Linked DNA regions of Homo sapiens. The protein of the gene in region 2 interacts with the protein of the main gene of each other region in a biochemical or structural test. Each region holds a gene or a part of one and is shown on either strand. Other genes may lie near its edges.

Evidence for each region.
Region 1: the proteins of DNM1 (region 2) and DNMBP form a complex in vitro, tested with the Homo sapiens proteins (one study listed by BioGRID).

What each region holds. Positions count from the first base shown.
Region 1 is NC_000010.11:99,884,210-99,888,231, forward strand, and holds part of DNMBP (dynamin-binding protein), read right to left. Parts: intron 2,424-4,022; coding exon 2,091-2,423; intron 1,658-2,090; coding exon 1,478-1,657; intron 1-1,477. UniProt on the Homo sapiens protein: Plays a critical role as a guanine nucleotide exchange factor (GEF) for CDC42 in several intracellular processes associated with the actin and microtubule cytoskeleton.
Region 2 is NC_000009.12:128,209,879-128,213,378, reverse strand, and holds part of DNM1 (dynamin-1), read right to left. Parts: intron 1-3,500. UniProt on the Homo sapiens protein: Catalyzes the hydrolysis of GTP and utilizes this energy to mediate vesicle scission and participates in many forms of endocytosis, such as clathrin-mediated endocytosis or synaptic vesicle endocytosis as well as rapid endocytosis (RE).

The DNA.
Region 1 (4,022 bases), on a different chromosome or scaffold from region 2:
CTGAAAGGTAAGACGTTAACAAAAATCTCTCAGTGGCCACTACCCCAGCAGCCATATTTCATCCCAACATGTGGCCAGTCTCAGAAATGAGGCAGGGACAGTCAGTCACTGCCCATCTCACTCCCATCAGATGTTTTTGTGATGAAGCCAGCCCATGTGGCTAGGTAAAAATCAAGAGCCCTTAGGCAATGTTTGATGCCTTTATAGTTAAGAAAATTTAACACACACCTATTCTTACATTTGTTTTCTTGTGACAAACGTGATTAAAATGCCACTTAAAAAAAATCAAAATATCTAAGTGATATTAGTAGGTCTTCTTGTATTTTGTTAGGGACATTCTCGGTTAGGTTCATCTATCTTGACTTCCCCACCTGTGAAAGCAAGGAAGTCATAAGAAAAAAGGTAATAATAAATTCAGGCTGGGCATGGTTGCTCACACCTGTAATCCCAGCACTTTGGGAGGCCAAGGTGGGCAGATCACTTGAGGCCAGGACTTGGAGACCAGTCTGGTCAACATAGCGAAACCCTGTCTCTACTAAAAATACAATACAGGCATGGTAACGCATGCCTGTAATCCCAGCTACTCAAGAGGCTGAGGCAGGAGAATCACTTGAACCTGGGAGGGTGGAGGATGCAGTGAGCCAAGATCAGACCACTGCATTCCAGCCTGGGTGACAGAGCAAGGCTCTGTCTCAAAAAATCATAATTCTCCCTTTTAAGGTAATATAAATTAATGTCTATGGGATCATATGGGGCAAAAATATTGTAAGCAAAGATGTATCAGCAGTCCTCTAGCTGGTGTGCCTTATGCTAATTTTTAAAATATGGAAGAACTGAGGTTAAAAAAGACTAACTCCAGGTAAAAAAGGCAGCCAACCATTAACTGTTTAGCTGTATTACTTTTATGAATACATCATAAAAAATAGGCCTGGCAGAATTAATATACCCTTAAATCAGTTTCCTGAATTAATGAACCAATGAATTAATACTGGGTTAATCCCCTCCCCCCCACAAAAAAAGCCTGGGGATGGTGGCTCATGCCTGTAATCCCAGCACTTTGGGAGGCTGAGGCGGACAGATCACAAGGTCAAGAGATCGAGACCACCCTGGCCAACATGGTAAAACCCCATCTCTACTAAAAAATAGAAAAATTAGCTGGGCGTAGTGGCGTGTGCCTGTAGTCCCAGCTACTTGGGAGGCTGAAGCAGGAGAATTCACTTGAACCCAGAAGGCGCAGGTTGTAGTGAGCCAAGATCACACCACTGCACTCCAGCCTGGCAACAGAATGAGATGAGACTCTGTCTCAAAAAAAAAAATGGCGAATGCATGAGCCCATGATGGGTGAGAATGCAACACTATTCTCCATTTATTATGAAATACAGAAACTCCAATAGTGGGATCTGGGCCTGGGGGCCTGGCTGCAGGGTTCCCCCTCTTTACCCCGAGGCGGGGCTGCTGCTCTCAGTTCCCTACTCACCAGGCCCAGGAGTGGCTTTCGAGCAGACTGGCGGTCAATGGTTTTCCTCTCAAATGGCTTCTTGGTAGCTGGAAGAGACTCCGGGAAGAAGGTAAAAACCTGGAGTTGCTGCAGAACTCTGCTGTGCTCTTCGTGGAAGATGGCAATAAGGTTTCCCTCTCTGCCAGCCACTTTGAGTAACTGGGGTCCATGGGAAGAGCAGAGATAGAGAAAAGAAGAAAACACGATAAAAGATCCCAGAGAAAAGAAGAAAACATGATGAAAGATCCCGGATTGACAGTCTCCTTAGAACCACTGGAAGCTAAAGTTCAGCTGCAGCTCATTCTCTGAGCTACCGACACAGCAGCCTGATGCAAGACACAAGTTCTCCAGGGCACTGCCTGCGGGCCAGGTTGGCTGGCTCTTCTGGGAACTGCTCAAGAGGGAAAAGATGTTTCAGAAGCCACAGGCTTCATGACACCATCAAGGGATTAAGATTTCCTGAGGGATGAACTAGCGACACATTCAGTTTATCTAATTCAGATAATTTTTCAAACCATGCTACCATTTTTCCCAGAAAAATACCAGGCAAAGGCTATAGATGACCATCCCACTGAACAGGTAAGAAACTCACCGAAAGCAGTGGCTTTAATTGCTCCAGAGCCTGGTGCACAAAGTCACAGTGGGCTTCAGCATAGCCGTGGACACAGTTGGTGAAGAGGCCCTGGGCGTACTGGTGGAACTTGGGCAGCTCATCCAGCAGCTGTGCATTCAGGGCCTCATAGTTGTTCCGGGCCGACTGCAGCTCCTCCAGGGTCTTCTTGTCCTTTAGCTTTTCTGCCCGTTCTGTACAGTTATAGAAGTCCAGGAGCTTGTCAAAGCGTTTCTGTACCAGCTTATGGGGCCCTGTAAACATGCTCAGTAACTGATTTAAGGGGGAGATGACAAGCCGCTCTGTCCTCTCCTTCTGTAGGGACGAGAAAGGCACATTGCTCAGCTGGACAGCATCCCACATTTGTGATTATCCAAGTCACTCTTAAGGCTGACTTTGTTGTGTCCTGAACCACCTACTTCGTTTCTAGTACACAAGCTAAACCCATACAGATCTACAACAGTATTCTACTAACCCATCACTAGCCTCTACTTAAATACTCCACAAGACTTCTCACTAGATACCTTCAATTCCCACATCAAGGAGTATGTAAAATACACTAATCTCACTTGACCTCCTTGAGGTGATAAATGCTAAGCTGCACACTGATATGATGTGTGCATTAGAAACCAGCCGTGAAGTTTACCTGGTAACATTTATTATGTGTACATGTCTACATAGCTTGAATTTAACTCCAGAGTTAGTTGTTACATAAATCTGAGGTGGAATAACTTTCATACACTCATAAACCTTTAATCATAACTAGGTAATACCCATTTTTTTTTTTTTGAGACGGAGTCTTGCTCTGTCACCCAGGCTGGAGTGCAGTGGCGCAATCTCAGCTCACTGCAGCCTCAGCCTCCCAAGAAGTTGGGATTACAGGAGTCAGCCACCGCACACAGCCCCCATTTTTATCTTCCAAAGAATTTTTCTCTTGGTTGGGAACGGTGGCTCATGCCCATAATCCCAGCACTTTGGGAGGCCAAGGTGGGCAGACCACTTGAGGTCAGAAGTTTGAGACCAGCCTGGCAAAACCCCGTCTCTACTAAAAATACAAAAATTAGGCAGGTATGGTGGTGCATGCCTGTAGTCCCAGCTCCTTGGGAGGCTGAGGCAGGAGAATCGCTTGAACCTGGGAGGCAGAGGTTGCAGTGAGCAGAGATTGTGCCACTGCACTCCAGCCTGGGTGACAGAGTGAGACTCCATCTCAAAACAAAAATTATAAATTTTTCTCTTTAATTCTTTCTAACACACAGACATTAAGGGTAAGGCAATGAATACATAAAGAACATAAACAGGTACTTAGTAGTACTTAGTAGCATCTTATTAAAAATAATGTACAATTAGAACACCTGTCAGCTCCCCAGGTGGGCATGTCTTTTTCACCCTCAGGCCACTTATAGATCCCTACAAAACTATCAAACCCCATCCAGTTTTTTCTACAAGGGATTAAACAATCCCATATATATGGATTTAGAATTTCTCAAGAAATTTGGTCTTCAGTACTTCAAGCAATTTTTTTTTGAGACAGAGTTTCGCTCTTGTTGCCCAGGCTGGAGTACAATGGCATGATCTCGGCTCACCATGACCTCCACCTTCCAGGTTCAAGCAATTCTCCTGCCTCAGCCTCCCGAGTAGCTGGGATTACAGGTGTGCGCCACCACACCTGGCTAATTTTGTATTTTTAGTAGAGACAGGGTTTCTCCATGTTGGTCAGGCTGGTCTCAACTCCCAACCTCAGGTGATCCGCCCACCTCGGCCTCCCAAAATGCTGGGATTAGAGGCGTGAGCCACCATGCCCGGACTTAAAGTAGTTTTTACCATCTCAAATCTCTTTGGTAACATATTAACTATATTCCTAAATATTTGTCTTCAAGGTTTTTTTTTTGTTTGTTTGTTTGTTTTTGTTTTGAG
Region 2 (3,500 bases):
AAGGTGCGGTGGCTCACTCCTGTAATCCCAACACTTTGGGAGGCCGAGGTGGGTGGATCGCCTGAGGTCAGGAGTTTGAGACCAGCCTGGCCAACATGGTGAAACCCCATCTCTACTAAAGATACAAAAATTAGCAGGGTGTGGTGGCGTGCGCCTGTAGTCCCAGCTACTCGGGAGACTGAGGCAGGAGAATCGCTTGAACCCGGGAGGTGGAGGTTGCAGTGAGCTGAGATCCTGCCGCTGTACTCCAGCCTGGATGACAGAGTGAGACTCTATCTCAAACAAACAAACAAAAAGATCCAGAAAATACGTGAAATATTTAAAAAATAAAAACCAATCGTCATCCCAACACCTGATGGGAGCCACTGTAAACATTTTATCATTCATCATCATCATCATGGCTAAACACTGATGAATTGCTGACTGTCAGCCAGGGACTCTGCCAGGGACTTGAAAATCTACATCAGCACAAGATTTCTTTTTAGGGTGACGGAAATATCCTAAAATTAGATAGTGATGATGGTTGCACCACTCTGTGAATATACCAAAGATCATTGAATTGTGCCTTTAAAATGGGTGAATGGTATGGCATGTAAATTATACCTCAGTAAAGCTGTTTAAGAAAATCTACAGCCTTTGGATCGATTCTTGCATGGCTGTGTGAAATCAGAGTGATCAGTTTCTCCATGTTACAGGGAAGAAACTGAGACTCAGAAAGGTGAAATCACATGCCTCTCAGGCGCTCACATGCACACTGGGTTATCAGCCCTTTGATAGCTTCTCTATTCACCTAACATATCATAGACATTTCCAAAGTTATTCACTATGCAGCTACATCTGGATCCTCTTTCTGTTTCCCTCCTTCTTTCCTTCCTTCCTTCCTTGATTCCTTCCTTCCTTCCTTCCAGCCGGGTCTTGCCGTGTTGCCCAGGCTGGAGTGCAGTGGTACGATCATAGCTCATTGCAGCCTCAAATTCCTGAGCTCAAGCAGTCCTCCCACCTCAATCTCCGAAGTAGCTGGGACTACATGTGTGCACCACCATGCCCAGCTATGGATCCTTATTTCTTATCACCAGCATCTTGATGAGAAGGAACCCCAACTCAGCCACTAAATTATTTCCTTGTTCTGAACCTCAGTTTGCCCACCAGTGAAATAGGACACAGGCCAGCAGCTGCCTCCTAGGGCTGCTGAGGGAATGCCCTGAGATCCTGGCTGTGGAAGGACCTAACAGGGGGTGCCCATTGGCAGGTCCCAGTTCCTGAGCACGTGCCATGTGCTGGGTGCTTTATGTGCTACAGCATTGCATTCCTTTGAAATGGGGACCCAGGTTGGGGGTGAGGGTGCATTCACCCGCTGAGATTTTTCTCCCCACCCTGGCTAGTGGCCTCCTTTCCCTGACCTAAGAAGAGAGGCACATGAGACAGAGTGATTAAAGAATAACACAGTCATGACTAGATACGTTGTTAATATTAACCATGGTTGGAGCCGCCCTCTGCCAGGAGCTCTGAGCCCAAGGCAACGGGCTTCTTTCTTCCTCTACAGCTTCCCATCTGGGAGAAAACAAAGCCCCACCCCACACAGGGAGGGCCAGGTCATGGCAGGAGAGGGTCATCAGAGAAGGCATCCCAGAGGAGGTGTTGGCTGATGTGACACTTGGAGGAAAGACCCAGTGAAAGAGGAAGACAACGGCAGGGTGAAGAGCTTTCCAGGGGCCAGCCACCTGGAATCCTGTAATCCCAATACTTTGGGAGGCTGAGGTGGGAGGATCGCTTGGGGCCAGGAGTTCAAGCCCCAGCTTGAGGCCAGGAGTTTGAGACCTGGCTTGAGGCCAGAAGTTTGAGACCAGCCTGGGTAACATAACAAGACCCTGTCTGTACAGAAAAAAAAAAAAAAAAAAAAAAAAAAGAGGCTTCCAGGCGAGAGAACAGCATATGCAATAGCACCCCAGGAGAGTGAGAGAGAGGGCACGGCCCTATTTTTCCCACGCACTGTAATATATTCAGGTAGACCAGGAGGGAGCGGCTGAAAGGAAGCAGGACTGGGTAATCAGCCCTCAGGGGCCCAACTCAGGTGTGGGGTTCCGTTTTGAGGGCAGGGAATCCAAAGAGGGCTTCAAGCTAGGAAGATAGATTGGGAGGCTGGAGAGAGTTTCATGCTGTCGGGCGGGGAATGGATTAGGGGGCAAGGGAGGAAACTACCTCTGCTGCTAAGACAAAGGGGCTGGAGTCTGAGGTAGACAGGAGTGAACTGGGCAGAATCCACAGGGCATGGGGACCAAGTCAGATGGGGAGGATGGGGGAGCCGGCAGGCAGTTGATCTTGGGGCCTCTGGCCAGGGCACTGGGAAGATGCCATTCAGGAGAATATTTTGAACACCTTCCAAGCTCAATATTACTTTTTTTTTTTCTGTTGCTTATAGTAATTCTAAGTTGCCAGGGCTGACTTCTCCAAATGATTCTTGTTTCTTAGCCAGATTTCATTCCAGGGAATGGGTAAGAGTGCCAGAGAGTCGCCCAGGAAGAGGAGAGGAGGAGACACTGAGGTGTGTAGGTGTGTGCACACATGGGTGGGACTGGGGTGGGGAATAGGGTAGACAGAAACATGGAAAAGTGTGGACTGGAGGCAGGAGACCCATGCCTGTTCCTGGCCTGCCTCTGATTCAATTGCTGTGTGACATTAGGCAGGTTCCCTACGCTCTCTGTGTCATTTTTGCCATCTAAAAACCTGGTGGCTCACACCTGTATTCCCAGCACTTTGCAAGGCCAAGGCGGGCAGATCACCTGAGGTCAGGAATTCGAGACCAGCCTGGCCAATATGGTGAAACCCCATCTCTACTAAAAATACAAAAATTAGCCAGGCATGATGGCGGGTGCCTGTTAGTCTCAGCTACTTGGGAGGCTGAGGTAGGAGAATTGCTTGAACCTGGGAGGCGGAGGTTGCAGTGAGCTGAGATTGTGCCACTGCACTCCAACCTGGGTGACCGAGCAAGACCCTGTTTCTAATAATAATAATAATAATAATAATAATAATGCCAAATAAATACAAATAAAATAAAAACCTGGTTGGAAGGCCAAAGTGGGAGGATCACTTGAGTCCAGGAGTTTGAGGCCACCCTGGGCAACATGGTGAGACCCCATCTCCACAAAAAATAAAATAAAAAACTTAGCTGGGTGTGGTGACACATGCCTGTCATCCCAGCTTCTCGGAAGGCTGAGGTGGGAGGATGGATGGCTTGAGCCCGGGAGGTCAAGGCTGCAGTGAGCCAAGATCGCCCCACTGCACTCCAGCCTGGGTGACAGAGTGAGATCCTGTCTTACAAAACAAAACAAAACAAAACAGACAAAACAAAACAAAACAAAAACTTGGAATGATAGAAGACATCAGTACTGCCCTTAGGCCTGGGGAATGGAGCCCTTAGTCTGAGACTTACACTTAGGGGTCCCTCTCTGGACCTCCTCTGGCTTCACCCTCCCCATGGGGCAAAGAGTTCCCCAGGGGCC